Regions from separate parts of the Homo sapiens genome. Here region 1 is linked to region 2. The links come from fine-mapping of genetic effects on gene expression. Tissue or cell type: breast. Region 2 holds a variant in brackets; the other region holds the start of a gene. All regions are shown on one strand. Distances are from middle to middle.

Evidence for each region. PIP is the estimated chance that this variant, and not a neighbour inherited with it, causes the effect.
Region 1: TJP2 starts here. The variant in region 2 is fine-mapped to the expression of TJP2 in breast (GTEx, PIP 0.94).

What each region holds. Positions count from the first base shown.
Region 1 is chr9:69,171,090-69,179,197 of GRCh38, reverse strand. It overlaps TJP2 (tight junction protein 2), which reads right to left and starts at 4,921. Exons shown (of 23, transcript NM_004817.4): 1 at 4,766-4,921. The coding sequence starts at 4,825. It overlaps LOC124902175 (a long non-coding RNA gene), which reads left to right and starts at 7,601. Exons shown (of 2, transcript XR_007061566.1): 1 at 7,601-8,108. RefSeq lists an enhancer at 3,823-4,012 and a silencer at 4,903-5,332.
Region 2 is chr9:69,235,169-69,243,276 of GRCh38, reverse strand. TJP2 (tight junction protein 2) reads right to left here. Exons shown (of 23, transcript NM_004817.4): 13 at 7,039-7,249; 14 at 6,141-6,328; 15 at 5,304-5,399; 16 at 4,488-4,567; 17 at 3,130-3,340. Among named protein-coding and RNA genes, the nearest start is that of TJP2, 65 kb to the right of the region's middle. RefSeq lists enhancers at 496-996, 997-1,497. The variant C/T (reference allele first, on the strand shown) is at 3,071.

The sequences.
Region 1 (8,108 bases), 64 kb after region 2:
AGCTTAGGATTTCTCATAAATGGTGTGAACACACACATCACTAGAGAGTCTACTGAAACAGTATTTTCTCTTCTCCTTGATTCATTCGCCTGCCATGAGCATGCATCTCTCTAGGTCAAAGCAGGGATACTTGTTTTCTACCTCAAGGCTTCCTGTTCCTACGAAAATCCTTGTTAAAGCCTATTTTACAGACCAATACAAGCTTCATATTAAAAAAAAAATAAGAAAAAAAAACTCATCCAGTTGGCATTCTTCTGAAAGACTTTGAGAAATTAAATGCATTTACAGGTGAGGCTGTTTGGCTGTCCACATTCTTCGGCAATGAATCATGAGCAAGAGTCACTTGATAATACAGTGATGTCCTTCATCAGTGTCAAAATACTTCCTCCCCTATCACTCTATCATATCAAAAATATCATACCAACAGACCTTTAAAAACTGCAGAATGGCTTGTGGAAGCAGAGAAAGGAATGAGAATTGGGCCAGACGTTAAAACAAACAGCTAGCTCTACAAATACACTGTCTGCAACCACATCTAAGAGATCTGAGTGGATAAGAGCAGGATGCACACGCTTAAGACAGAAAGTCCATCAAATTCAACTTTCCTGGCTATTCTGGGCCATTCTGTGTTTGACTTTCTTGAAGGCGTGGTCAAGGTATACCAGGCTCTCTATAAGTAAGCACCACACTCATATTTTAAGCAGTATTATGCACACCTCAGATGTCAAGGGCTAGCTTTACCATTTTTGCCTTAGCCTCATATTACTCATTCCCAGAGTTGATAATTTTTCTTAAAGCAAACTCACTGCTTTACTTAATATTTATTTTTGCCTCATTCTAAGCAATCTAGCCATGAAATAAATGGATGTGGTAGCTGGTTTTCTGTTTTTATTCCTAACATATAATATTCATGCATCATAATTGAAAAATAGAATATGTATCTCTCTGCACCACCTGTAAGTCTGTCTGTATACCAGACTTTGGAAAGCACTGTTTTGGGATAGCATAAAAGGTAGAGAAAATGCTTTATTAAATGATTAGGTATTTTGGGGGTATGATAGTCCTTACTCTGTCTCCTCTGAGAGCTCACAGGTTATCTAGGATGATGAAGCTTTGGTTGTTTAATGGCCAGCTGGATGATAGAGACACCAATCCCTTTAAAAAACAGAATGGAGCCGTCACTGTTATGGGTAGCCATTGCCCCAGCTTGTGCAGGTCTTCTGGGGCTCTAGCTGTCAGTCACCCAGTTCTAAGAAGTGCTTTTCCTAATCAAATGGAAAAAGTGGAAGCAGACACTCTCCAACTCGGAACTCTGCCTCTCACACTACAATGTATGCAGCATACTAGCTCAACTGCTTTCCTAGGTACCATCCAAAATTAAAACTAGTGGCCGGGCACGGTGGCTCACTTCTGTAATCCCAGCTACTTTGAAGGCTGAAGCAAGAGAACCGCTTGAACCCGGGAGGCAGAGGTTGCAGTGAGCCAAGACCGCACCACCACACTTCAGCCTGGGCAACAGAGCAAGACTCCATCTCCAAAAAAAAAACCAAAAAAACAAAAATAAAATTAAAACTAGCTACTGCAATACTGCATATTGGATTTCCATGCCTGAATTTTTTTTTCCATTGCTATCACACAGCCTTTTCAAAAAGTTTAATAGTAATACCACCTTAGACCCTCCCAAATTCACTTTCTATATGGGCATCTACTAAAAAGGCTGATTGCAAAAATTCCTATGAGGGAGAAACAGGCCCTAAATAGCTTTTTAAACCTTAACAAAGTTCACATAACCATTGATGTGTTTAACCCACTAAATGGGTGTTAAATCTAACCTCTGAGTCTGTGTTTCTGACCCTAACCCTTGGATTTAGGATCAAGACAAAAACTCAGTAAAACACCAGAGAAAACTGTTCTGCTTCCCTCCACTCCCATCTGGGGCAATCTCACCCTCAGACACTACCATATACCAAATCACCTTCTCTGGAAAATCAAGGCTGGTTGGTCCAACAACTGTTGGGCCCCTGATTACTGCTTAGAGTCAAATCAATGAGGCATGTTATTGGGAATCAGCTCTCAACCTAGATAAATTCATCTGTAGCCACAACTGCTTAATGGGATTCGTTCTAGAGATGAGGCAAGGAATTCCCTGGTGGCTCATATTGTTGGTAGAATATGTTGAAAGTTTCAGCAGTGATTGCGAACCCTTCTACCGCTTCACCCCGCCCCCACCACACCCAAACTTCATGCCTCTCCCCAACCAAGTCTGCATGACTTTTTAAATTACTATTTATATTACTACACATATTATTGTACACAGGACTAAAGTGGCCCCGCCTAGTTTCAATAACTTGTGTCTCGTAAAAAGATAACCTTCTTAAGGAGAGAAAACCTTGCTAAACTCAAAATCTCCCTTGCCTTCAGCAGTATGCAGAAAGTTCTCACACTTGTCCTGAAGAGAAATGGTTGGCTGTGAACTTTTGTCAGTGTACAAAGAACTAGATCAAAAGTTAAATGTAGGCAGAAGTCATTGCAAATGCAATTCCCCCGGGGGTGATGTAAAAATTCATTGGTCTTAAGCCTATGAATGCCTCAAAAATAGTTATGGGGTGGGATGTTTACTGGGAAACTGGTTCGCTTCTTTTGTAGGGAAAGTCAAGTCATTTAATACATGAGGGATTTCTGACTTCCCCCCACCCAAAGCTTCGTTATGGCCTTCAAGGCCTTTTAACAGAGTGTGAACAACAACTCTTTCAGTTTTTTCCTGGACACCTACCTGGCACCTCCTACTTGTATCTTTAGATCTCACCTCCCTTATCAACCCAGGACCCAACACTTAAGAGTTTTCAGCACCCGTTTTGTTCCTATTACTAGCTACCACCATTTACGTAGCATCCACCACATGCCTTGTACTCTCTGTCATTTCATTCAGACCTCACTCAGCCCGGTGAGGTGGGCGCATTACTGGCCCCATTTTCTATAGTGGCTTGCTCGGGTGAGGTAACTGTTCAAATGCCCTTTATTCCCAGCAAGAATCCCCTGAAGGGAATGCATATAGGACCAATCCCACTCTTTGCTAAATTTCTGTATTGCAGAGTGTGCATCGGCATCATACATTCCCTCCCTCAGTCTCAGGAATCCCGACACAGATTGCAGAGTAAAGTCTAACAGTTTCAGGTCCACTAGACCCCTAAATGCAGAAATTGAATCTTGTTCATCTTTGTATCCCCCACAGTGACTGGCAGGAGTAGGGGCTCATTCAGTATTATAATATCTGGATGGTACTGAAAAAGTTACAGCAGCATTTCAGAGGGGAAAGTTCCCCTTCATCAATCTGCATAAGTAGCTCTGAAAAGAAATAAAGTGGCCCCACTGCAGAAGTAGTTCTGAAAAAAACACAAGAAACACCTCAAAAGCCACCGGTGCTTTAGTAAAGCACCTCCGCTTCTGCCATCTCCCCACAATGAGGAAGCTCCAGTACCCTGTCCACATTTCTAAATGGCACTCATCGGATTCTTAATGAGTTGCAGGCTTTCCCAACGGGACTGTGTGACAGAGCCACGCTCTTGCTCATCTGCGTAATCCCCACACTGAAGTGGAGTTGTTCATGAAAACTTACTAAATAATCAAATTTCATCCTCTCAAGCAGGATATGCAGTGGTACTTTGCTACAAATACATTTACCACTACGAATTTCTCACTTCAAGCGATCTCCTGCCCAGGTGTGTGCTCTCAGAAAATTACATCTCTTTCTGAATTACGCTGGCAAAGGTGGACCTGTTTTCCCAAAAGGACCGTCAGCACACCCAGCACAGACCACCTGGGGAGCTGAAGAAAACGACCTCCCTCCCTCCTCCCCGCTGGGATTCCCCGGGCTGAGAGCGTGAGTGAGAAGCGCAAGGCAGTTTCTATCATGGGATGACTCTCCGCTGGGAACTTCAGGGAAACCACAACCATCATTACTCAGGCCAGACAGCTGCCAGAAAAGCAGCCTAGCCTAAGAACTGAAGCTGAAATAGAGGTGGGAGGCTGTATTCCATTACTAAGCGCGGGAGCACTCACTCCCAAGTTTGTCCACATTTCAAGAATGTTAAAACCCTGTGGTAGAAATCCCTGATTATTTATAACTTAAACTACCGTGTAAAAGCAGAAACTTGACAAATGAAGACATAAAAAGAACTGGTGACAGGTAGGCTAGTACTAGAATACAAAGCATTCATCACACTCCTCTTTTGTGGGTCCTTCCAAACCTCCATCCCCATTCCCTACTGGAAAAAAAAAAAAAAAAAAACAACTTTTACTTCTATTACAGACGCAGCTGATTGAAAGGGAAAAGGGATTCTGCTCTGTGATGAGTTTTCAGTTTCTCTCACGTACACAAGCCTGTAACTTTGCATCAATACCGAGTGTGGTTTGAAATAGAGAAGGAAAACACAAAGACATGCAAGCGACACAACAGACACGAGATGCCTCCAAGCCAGCAGAAATCCAGGACACCGGGTTCAAGACAGTGTCCCCTACTCGCGCCTTAATCTCCAGCCCAAGTGACTTCAGAGTAAAGGTTCCAGGAGCCCCGGAGGCCACGAGTCATCAGCCCGGACGGTGAAACCTACCCCTCCCCTGCGTCCCACGTCCGGATGGGAGAATCCCAGCTTCCTACGGCGCATCGGGGAACAACTTCAGAGCAGCACGCGAGCAGAGCCCCCAGCGCTCCCACGCTCACGCTCACGACCCTCCTCCCAACCGCGCGGCACAAGGAGGCACTTACGCGGAGCCAACCTGACAGCTCCCGCCGGGGTGGAAACCCGCGGTCTCCTCGCACCGGCATTTCGGACACAGGTCCCGCGTAGGCGCGCAGCTCCGGACCCCGCTTCTGCTTCTGCTCCTGCTCCTACTCCTCCTGGGCACCACCGGACAGTGCTCTGACCCGCAGCCCAACCGCCGGGGTGCCGACCCGCGGGGACCCACCCCTTTGTCCCTCCTCCCGCGGCGGCGGCGGCGTCAGCCCGCCCCCGACCCGAGCGTGGCGCCTCCGCGCTGGCCGCCCGGCCCGGGAAACTGTCAAATTGGCCGCTACCACCCACGCGCCTGCCGGGGAAGGGCTCGCCGGCGCCGCGCCTTCGAGGCTCCTGCGGCGAACCGCGTCACGCGCGACTCCTGGCCGGGGGCGGGAGGCGGCGGCGGCGGCAGGAGAAGCCCAAGGCCCGAGCGGCCCGCAGCCCCCACGCCTGCACCCCTCCACCCCCGCCAGCCCGATGGTTCGCTCCGCGGCGTGCACTGGAGCAAGCAGGTCCCGCTCCGAGCGCGCGCGCTCTGGGAAGTGCTGCAAGTTTGGAGACCTGGAGTGAGCTCCGGGCGCTGCTGGCCCGACTGTCCGCGGTGTTTCCCCGGTGAGGTCGCGGGGGCATCCTGTAGGAAGACTTTTTGGCGAGGTTCGCAGGGCCTCACACAGGCAGCTTCAGTTCTCCTACGAAGAGTCGAACTGGGAAAACCTCAAAGTTTTAGGTCCTGTCTAGAGGCCTGCCCGGCTAACCAACACATACACGGCCTTGTACCCCACATTTCTCAGCCCAACAACTGCCTACCCGAATTCCGAGGGTTATAAGATGTTCGTATTAAATATTAAAACAGGACTTTTCAGGACAATATATTCCAGGTTATCTCTTTGGCACATTTCCAACAACTCCAATAAAGAGATTGAAACTCCTCTCCCATCATCAGCTTATAAAAGGTTGCCAGTAGGTCACAAGTGCTTATCTGACAGGATTCATCTAATGCAATTCAGTGTGCTTATTCCTTTCGAAGTCCTCCATGTGCAAAGAATTGTGCAGTGACGTTAAGTGTCTTTATTTTAAGAGCATATAAATTAATTTGGAGAATCCAAACAGGTACCGATTAAAAATATAACCTTGGGTTTGAAATCTTAAAAAACCATCTTGTAAGAGAATAGTTTTGCCTGCCCTGCTCTTCCCTTAATTGGAAAGCAAAACTCGTCCTAGGCTCACAAGTAGAAGGTAAAAGGTGTGGTCTGTCCCAGAGGAGATGCAGATGCTGGGCTCTCTCCCTGAAAAGTTGCTTCACTTCCTGCCTGATCAAAACAAGTCTAGAAGTTTCGTGGAAAAACAAGTCCAGTAGATGCCTCTCCAGAAGTGTTATGCTTCTGGACTCCTTTGGAGTAACTAAGTCCACGCCTCTGGATAAAAAGCACTGTGAGTAACGTTTCCCACTTTGCCTCGAGTCTCCGGACTTAGACATTTTGGTTGTATTCCTGATGTAAGGCATTGCTCTCCTGATCTAAGCACCTATTTATAAAATGTTTCCCAAATCTGGCCAGGCACGGTGGCTCATGCCTGTAATCCCAGCACTTTGGGAAGGCAAGGCAGGAGAATCACTTGAGCCCACGAGTTTGAGACCAGTCTGGGCAACATAGTGAGACCCCATCTCTATTTTTTAAAAATTGTTTTAATCAAAAAAAAGGAAAAAAAAATAAAATATTTCCCAAATTAGGTGGTGCTGACTAATAAAAATGATAGCACTTGAAAGGTGGCCACACCTTAATGATGTGGGCTTAGAGCCACTAACATTTAAAAAATAATCCAGAATGTGGCAGTTACATCTACTGACTGATTTCCTTTTTTCTCTCTAGAGCGGCACTGTTCAATAAGATGACCACTTGCCACCAGTAAGTGTTTACATTTACATGTAAATTAACTAAAATTAGAGGAAATGACAAATTCAGTTCTTCAGTCACACTTGTCTCATTTCAAGGGCTCAGAAGCCACATGTGGCTAATAGCTACCCTATTGGACAGTGCAAATATAGAATATTTCCATCAATGCAGAAAGTTCTGTTGGACTGCACTACTCGAAATGATGAAATATTTATAGACAAACTCCATTCTTCTGGCACAACACCTGACAGATGATAAGCATTCAGTAAATGGTTGTTAGAAACACGGTTCAGTTGATATATTAGCTTTTTTGCTGGTGGCAGTGTAAATCAATACAACTCTTTGGAGAAACAATTTATTAGTCATCTTCTTCACGTGTGGGTTTGCACATTTTGACCCCACTCCTAGAATGTGTTTATCCAAAGAACTTCTACTCCGCAGGGCGCGGTGGCTCATGCCTGTAATCCCAGCACTTTGGGAGGTCGAGGCGGACAGATCGCGAGGTCAAGAAATCAAGACCATCCTGGCCAACATGGTGAGACCCCGTCTCTACTAAAAATAACAAAAATTAGCTGGGCGTGGTGGCGCACGCCTGTAGTCCCAGCTGTTCAGGAGGCTGAGGCAGGAGAATCGCTTGAACCCAAGAGGCGGAGGTTACAGTGAGACGAGATTGCACCACTGCACTCCAGCCTGGTGACAGAGCGAGATTCCGTCTCAAAAAAAAAAAAAAAAAAAAAAAAATTCTTCTACTCAACAGGTACTTACTGAACACCTCTGTCAACCCCTTGATAAAATACTCAGGATCCTGCCTTAGGAAACTCAGTCTATTGCAGTAGACAATCAACAAGTAATGATAAACTGTGTAAGCACTGAGATTCCTGGCAGGCTCAGAGTGGTCTAGCAGGAGAGACTTAGGGAAGGCTTTCCAGAGATGGGGTTGCTTATACATTCTAAAGGAGAGGTCGGAATGAGTTTTTAAGACACAAAGAAGGAAAAAAGCCTTCCAGGTAAGGGGAATAAATAACACAGAGAGAAGTAAGGAAGGAAGAGACAGCAGGCTTACTCTTGAGGTGCCAGAAGGTGAAGTTGCCCAGGCAAGTATAAAGATGGATTTGACAGTTGGTGGGGGACAGGGGTTGGTGGGGGAGGAGAATGTTAGTAAGAATGACAAGACCGGCCAAAAATGCATTTTTGTGGGAATGCAGGTGAGAGATGACGTGGCTATGAAGTTAGGCAGTGTTAGACAAAAGGGAGCCAGATTCTAGAGAAACTAAGGAAGTAGATCAGCAGGCTGGATGACTGCCTGACTAGATATGGGGAGACGCGAGCGGGAAGTGAGCCTACGCTGACTCTCAGGTTTCTGGCTTACTTAAAGGAGATGACGGTGGCTTTTATCAAAACAGAACACAGGAGTGGGAGCAGATCTTGGGAGGAGCTTGAA
Region 2 (8,108 bases):
CAACATAAAGCTTGACTTCAAATTACTGTGTTCATCAAAGCACTCTATTATTCTCAACTACTAACTCACAAAAATGCCATACACTTAAAATCATTTTAAAAGCCTACAAAATAGGCCAGGCACGGTGGCTCATGCCTGTAATCCCAGCATTTTAGGAGGCCAACACGGGCAGATTGCTTGAGCCCAGGGGTTTGAGACCAGCTTGGGCAACATGGGTAAACCCTGTTGCCAGAAAAAATACAAAAATTACCCAGGCATGGTGGTGTGTGCCTGTAGTCCCAGCTACTGGGGAGGCTGAGGAGGGAAGGTGCCTTGAGCCCAGGAAGCAGAGGTTGCAGTGAACCGAGATCGTGCCACTGCACTCTAGCTTGGGCGACAGAGGGAGACTATGTCTCAAAAACAAACAAAAACTATAAAATACTAATTCTGCCTGAAGATTCTACTGCTCAAATGTAAAGACTAGTGTTTCTGGACATGGCACACAGCCTCAAGTCAAAACCTGGTCAAGCTAAGAGGGACGAGGGTGAGATGGGGAATAAAAGCAATTATTAGTGCAGTCATCCACACAGCTGTAGGGAGTCAAACTTTGAAGTCTGGAAGAGTACTGTAAAAGACCACTTGCTAGAAAATTGGAGCTTGCTGGTCAAAGTTGCTGCACACCCTGCACCATCTATCCTGAAGACTGTACAATTCTACATAAGAGATTGGCAATTTCTGGTGAGATAAGATCACTTCAATGTTTTAGATGAAACTCAATGCTTACAGTGTGTGCTTCCATTCCAATCTCTGACTTGAGTTATTCTAAAACTTTCAACTTCCTGATGAGTTTAGGCAAGAAATGGCTTGGTGTGCCAGGGGCAGTTCTAATGTAAGTTACAAACATTTATGCCTTGCCCATGTGCTAGTCCTGATGCTGGCCTCAGGCACACAACGCTGGGAAATGTTCAGGCTCTGCCTTCAAGGATCTTGAAATCCATCTATGGAGCTAACAGAGGTGTTGCTAACCCCTTCTACACACATGGACCCCTCTAGATTCTTACTCACACTCAGCCAGCTACCGTGGCCTGTGCTCCCAAGAGCAAATGATGCGGACTCAGGTTAGATCAAGGGAGAGCCCCACAGTCACTGGCTGCCTTCTTCTGCCCTGCTCTCCTCGTCCAGCCGCCTTCAGCCTAGTTCTTCCTCTACAATGCACTGTAATTCCCTTCCCGATTTCCTACATCCTCACGTGAATCCCAAATTTAACTCTCTGAGGGAAGACGCTCGCTATTTAGTGTACTCAGACAAAAGCAGGGGGGAAAATAAAGTGGGGATAGTTTTAACTTCATTTATAATCACTTTGGCTTCAGTTTTTTAATCTGTCAAAAGGAAGGGCTGCATTACGTGACCCCTTTTGGGATTAGAATATGTCTGTGCTGTAACATATGTACAATATTGGACAGTTAGGGACGCTATAGTTTAGTCTGGGCTCAGTCATACATCAGAATTGTGATTATGCAAAAGTGCTGGCCTTTCTTATGGCCTAATAAGACAGCACACATGGAAGGCTGTACCACTCTTTACTGTTGCTATAATAGTAATAATCATAATAATTATAATACTAGTAGTAAAAAGGACAGAAAGGATATTCATAAATATACCAAGAGTATGAGTACGTAAGACTACATTCACAGAAATCTAGTTTATGATGGACCACTTCCTCCTCTGCATTTGGTTAAACTCTCTCCATTTGGCCACAGTGGCAAGTAGTGCACCTCTCTTTAACAAGAAAAACCAAGTTACACTAAAACAAGCATCTAATGTGAACACAATCATTCACCCCTTCCTCTCCAGTATCAGAGATACACTAAAATGACATGGGTGGATGATGATGGGCAATGAACTCAATGAGCTATCCTCATCCTAAGGATATCATATCCTTGCAGTCTCCTCGTGTTGCCCCAACAAAATAATGCCCTGCATGACCACAAAATTTATGTAACCCTTTAAAACTCTTAATAATCTCATATGCACAGAATTAATCATTTATATAGACAGTGCATATATTGTTACTAAAATATGTCATGTTCTTAGACCATTTTACTTTCATGAGTAATAGCAATGGCTCTTCATTTCATGGACTTAAAAATATATTCTATTAGGTAAATCTTTAAATATGTACAAAAGTACAGATAGCAGTTTAATGAACTCCGATGTACATATCAACCAGTTCAACAACTAACAACTACCAAGTCTTGGCCAGTCTTGTCCTGTCTATAATCCCATCTACTCCCCTCACTGCAGACTATTTAGGCAAATTCTCAACATTATATTAGGTCAACCATAAATATTTTATTTAGTATGCATTCCTCAAAGAACTTTGTTTTTAAAAAAATCACAATATTATTATCACACCTAACAAAGAGAAATAATAAATCTTTAAATCATCCAATATTCAGAGTGTCCAAGTTTCTAGATTTTTTTTTTTTTCTTTGAAGAGACAGGGTCTCACTCAGTCACCAGGCAGGAGTGCAGCAGTGCCATCACAGCTCACTGCAGCTTTGAATTCCTGGCTCAAGCGATCCTCCAACCTCAGCCATAGGCATGCACCACCATGCTAGGCCTTTTAGTAGAGACAGGATCTCACCATGTTGCTCAGGCTGGTCTCCAACCCCTGGGCTCAAGTGATCCTCCTGCCTTGGCCTCCCAAAGTGGGAGGATTACAAGTGTTATCCACCATGCTGGACAGGAATATTTTTAAATAATGAAACCAAGTTCCTTTCGCTTTGTAAGTTAATGCATGTATTGATGGTGAGTAGAGAACAATGACACAATCTCTAGAGAGACATAGGTGTTTGGCCTGGCTCAATCACTAGCCTTATAGTCTCACAGGAAAATATGAACTTCATCAAAATAGCTAATTATTACCACATCATGGATCTTTATGGTCATTTTCAAATAGACAAAATTACAAAGTTCAATATATAAATGCCATTGGCCTAATATCCCATTTTATAGGATTAACTATTTTTCAAGGAGTCATGAACACAATTTCAAATTCTCCATTCAGATTAATTAATTATTTCTTCTA[C/T]TCTTCAATTCTTTATTTCTCATTTTTTAGCAAAGGGACTACATTTACATTTCACTTACCTGTAAAAAGGTGTGCACACGTTTTTTTAAGCTTGTTGGCTTGATCAAATAACTTTCGAGAACTTTTGTTGGACGTTGGATTTAACCTTTGTCTCATGGTTTTGACACCTTGTCTGGAGTCTGGGTTGAAAAAAATCACAATTGGGAACCACTGGGTGTAATTCAACAGGTCCACAGCTTTCGGAGTCACATCCAGTAGTGCATGCTTATCCTGTTTACAAAAGGGGAAAAGTTAGAGAAATGGATATATAAAGTAATATAGCATCAAATACTTTGTTTTAATAAGTAAAGGCTGTATGAGATATATCTTGTTTGTTTGTTTGTTTACTTATTTGGGATAGATTCTTGCTCTGTTGCCCAGGCTGGAGTGCAGTGGCACAAACTTGGCTCACTGCGACCTCCGCCTCCCGGGTTCAAGCAATTATCCTGTCTCAGCCTCCTGAGTAGCTGGGATTACAGGTGCCCGCCACCACCATGGCCAGCTAATTTTTGTATTTTTAGTAGAGACAGGGTTTCACCATGTTGGCCAGGCTGGTCCCAAACTCCTGACTTCAGGTGATCCGCCCGCCTCTGCCTCCCAAAGTGCTGGGATTACAGGCATGAGCCACCTATCTTGTAAATTTAAATCAAGAAGCAGAACACATTTCCTTCTACCTAATGCCCACTTCAATATTACCAATGTGTTAGAACTTCTGATAAAATGAATTAACACATTATTTGGTATAATGCTGGGAACTCTGGAAAAAAAAACAGTATGTTACTGCCAGAGAACAGTAACAGTGACTGGTTTCCACACAGTGAAATGGTTTGCATTTACATTATATATATATTTTTTTGAGATGGAGTTTCACTCTTGTCGCCCAGGCTGGAGTGCAATGGTGCAATCTCCGCTCACTGCCAACAGTGACTGGTTTCCACACAGTGAAACGGTTTGCATTTACATTATATATATATTTTTTTGAGATGGAGTTTCACTCGTCGCCCAGGCTGGAGTGCAATGGTGCAATCTCCGCTCACTGCAAACTCCGCCTCCTGAGTTCAAGCGATTCTCCTGCCTCAGCCTCCTGAGTGGCTGGGACTACAGGTACCTGCCACTGTGCCCGGCTAATTTTTTATATTTTTAGTAGAGACAGGGTTTCACCATGTTGGCCAGGCTGGTCTCGAACTCCTGACCTCAGGTGATCCACCCGCCTCAGCCTCTCAAAGTGTTGGGATTACAGGTGTAAGCCACTGTGCCCGGCCAATTTTTTATTATTAACATTTAATGATTAAAAGTACAGATACTATCCTAAAAGTGACTGCAGCAAACCATAATCTAATTCTTTCTGAAAACACGGTCTGTGGATGAATTTTCTCACCTGTTCAATAATTTGCCTCACGGTATTTAACCGGACCACTCCAGTGGATTTCTCAGATCCTGCATCTTTTGGTTCCGTTTCTGCAAAAGCAAAAACAGGAAGCTAAATAATTGTTTAGAAAACAGTGACAACCAAATACTCCCACCTAGCATCAAGCAATGATGGCACACCTGACATTAAGTGTCTCCTAACAAGATTCAGTGGGAAGGACCCACATAACCTGCTTAGTGGAAATCTAATCATGAAGAAACGGTTAGGCCAGTCCAACAGGAAGCATTCTAGGAGACAACTAGCTTGGATTCTTCAAAATATCAGTGTAACAAAGTTATTTAGAAAAAAGAGGGGACTGGAAAGACATAAAAATCACAAAAAGACATAAAAATCAAATGTCATGAATGGTCCTTGGTTGTATTCTGAATTTAAAAAAAAGCTATGAAGCACATAACTAGGACAATTAAGAAAACGTGGAAAATGGACTATATACAAAATCACACCACATCAATGTTACCTTTCTTGGCTGTGATAATGGTATTGCAGTTATGTGGGAGAAAGTCCTTGTTCTTAGGAGATTCACACAAGTATTCAGGGATAAAGTGTTATAAATGATTCTGCAGAAATTTTTCAAAGAGTATGTGTATGTGTGTGTGTATGTGTGTCTATGGTGCAGGCAGTGGGTGAGAGAAAATGCGTGACAAAATGTCAGCAACTGGTGATTCCAGGTGAAGGGTACGTGGGTGTTCATGATTCTTCCAACTCCTCTGTTAGAAATTTTTCAAAATAAAAATTTGGGGGAAAAAAAAACACTGACAGACTTACTAGCAGTTTGAAACCAGTCAGGTAACTCATTAGCCAATTTTTCCATTGCTATATCAGCTATGGGGCCGAATAAGACCACAGGTCTCTTGAAACCAGCTGAAATGACAAGAAAGGCCATTAAAGCATACACACTTGCCTAGCTGTTATGATAAGCAGTAAAAGTATTGTATGGGCTTTTGATAACATAACTAAACGAAAGAAACTGTGGTTTCTCCCCAATTCAGCTTGGCTCTGTTCTGAAGAATATGCCTTCACTATCCTCACCATTTAAAACAATTTTTTTCTTTTCATTCAACCACATGCTAACCTAGATTTTTTTTTAAGAGACAAGATCTCACTATGTTGCCCAGACTAAACTCAAACTCCTAGGCTCAAGCCTCCTGAGTAGCTGGGACTACACTGCCTAGCTCCTCACCATTTTTAAACACAAACTTTCCCATTGATAATATATGGAAACTTTTTTTATTTTTTGCAGAGATGAGGTCTTACTATATTGCCCAGGCTAGTCTTGAACTTCTGAGCTCAAGTGATCCTCCCACCTTGGCCTCCCAAAGTGCTACGATTATAGGCATAAGGTACAGTGCCCAGCCAATATACCGAAACTCTTGAACAGTGGTATTAAAACATTTTTTAAGTTGCAGAAATAAGCCTCAATTTAGGAACTGAAACAGCTTTTTATAAATCATGCTCCTTGTTAGAATTTGATTTCAACTCTATAAACTGCCTTTGGCATAACTGACATACATAAGTTAGAACTTGACCATACAGTCTGAAAATAAAGGTGAACAGGCTCAGAGCCCAGTCAGTTCATTTCCAGGCCCCATGTGACTTCCTCACCTTCTCGCAGCAAAACCCTCTCATAAGCTGGGAACTTGGTGCTGACAGACACAACAGCTGTGAGGTCTTCCCGACTTTTCCTCAGGTTCTTCTTCACCCCAGACCTCTGGCCACGCATTCTCCAGAAATCTGCCCGGTCCCCAGCGTTGTCTCTCTGGGCATTTTGAACACTGGCCATTTGTTCAGCTCTGAGAAGAAACCACGGGAAGTAAATCTCTAAAGCCAGAAAACGCAGCTAACATGCATTTCATTAATCAAATCCAGTCAATTTTACTTCTGAGCTCAGAGAAGATTCCGCTTGACAATGAAGAAGTTTCAGAGGGTGGGAAATGTGGGGACCTTCACTTCCAAATGGGAGCAGAAAAAGGCTGGGTCTCTGTGAAATCTCCCAGAAGTGGCTCAGCAATAAACATGTGAAATTTGGCCCATTCTGATATGCAGGTACACAGTACACACACCTGGAACTCCTGCTCAAATACAGGCCTCTTTTCTAGGTTCCTGCACTGTCAGCCAAACACCAAGTGTTCACTGGGGTGCATAAACCTCTCCAAGGATGGAGACTGGGCACCGGACAAGGGTACCTTGTCTCTAAGAGGTGTGCTGGTGTGCTACGGCCATTCAGTATATCTCTTGTATACGGTACAAGGCAGTGGATGCTCCTTAGGAAGTTGTTCAAACAGCCACATTCAGCAACCAACCACATGATGCTAAATTTACTCACAATAAACTGGCTGGTGGCTATTTACAGTTCAGGCCACTCTCCATAAACAAGAAATAGATGGTGACAAGTAATGAACTCATCATGTGGGGTTTCCTTTTACGGGGGAAGGGGGGCGGTCTCTAGTTTTCTGCAGGGGGAAGGATTAAAAGGGGTATGTGAGAATGCGATCTCTGTTACCTGCTCTTGTTGGGGATTAAGCCTTTCTCCAACTCGTTCCCAATCCTCACAGCCAGCCAGTTGCCCAGCTTGCCGTCATACAGTGTGTCTACCACTCGGAAGACCTCCCCTCTGGTGAAGGCCAGGCTCTGTGGAGTTTCCTTCTCACATTCAAAGTGGCTTCTTATAAAAAACGAATCCCCTCTGCCACAAGCCAGGATGTCTCTATACACTGAAAGACAAAAGCATCGTTTGTTGCATTCAGCTTAGTACAAGTTACAGTACTAGACACTCAACACAGCTTCTCCTATCTCTGATCTCCCCTTTACCTTCCTTCCATTCAGTGCACAAGTCCTATGGGAGTCACAGCTCCAACAGGAACAAGGACAAATAACCAGCTTCACGGCTTGCTGCAATGGTTAATTTTATTTCAACTTGACTGGGCCATGAAATAACCAGGTATTTGGTCAGACTTTATTCTATGCCTTTCTCTGAGGGTGTTTTTGAATGACAGTCACGTATAAATGGGTAGACTGAGCAAAGAAGATCGCCCTCCCCAATGCGAGTGGGCCTCATCCAATCAGTTGAGGGCCTGAAGAGAATGACAATCAGACCCCTTCTCAATTAAGAGGAAACTAGGCTGGGCGTGGTGGCTCATGCCTATAATCCCAGCACTTTGGGAGGCCAAGGTGGGTGGATCACAAGGTCAGGAGATCGAGACCATCCTGGCTAACACAGTGAAACCCCGTCTCTACTAAAAATACAAAAAATTAGCCGGGCGTGGTGGTGGGCGCCTGTAGTCCCAGCTACTCGGGAGGCTGAGGCAGGAGAATGGGGTGAACCTGGGAGGCAGAGCTTGCAGTGAGCCAAGATTGCTCCACTGCACTCCAGCCTCAGCGACAAAGCCAGACTCCGTCTCAAAAAAATAATAATAAATAAATAAATAAATAAATAAATAAATAAAAAATTAGGAGGAAACTACTCTTCCTGCCTGATGGCCTTCAAAAGGCGACATCAGCTCTTTTCCCTGACTTGGTACTGGAACTACACCATTGGCTCTCCTGGTTCTCAGGCCTTCAGACTGAGACTAG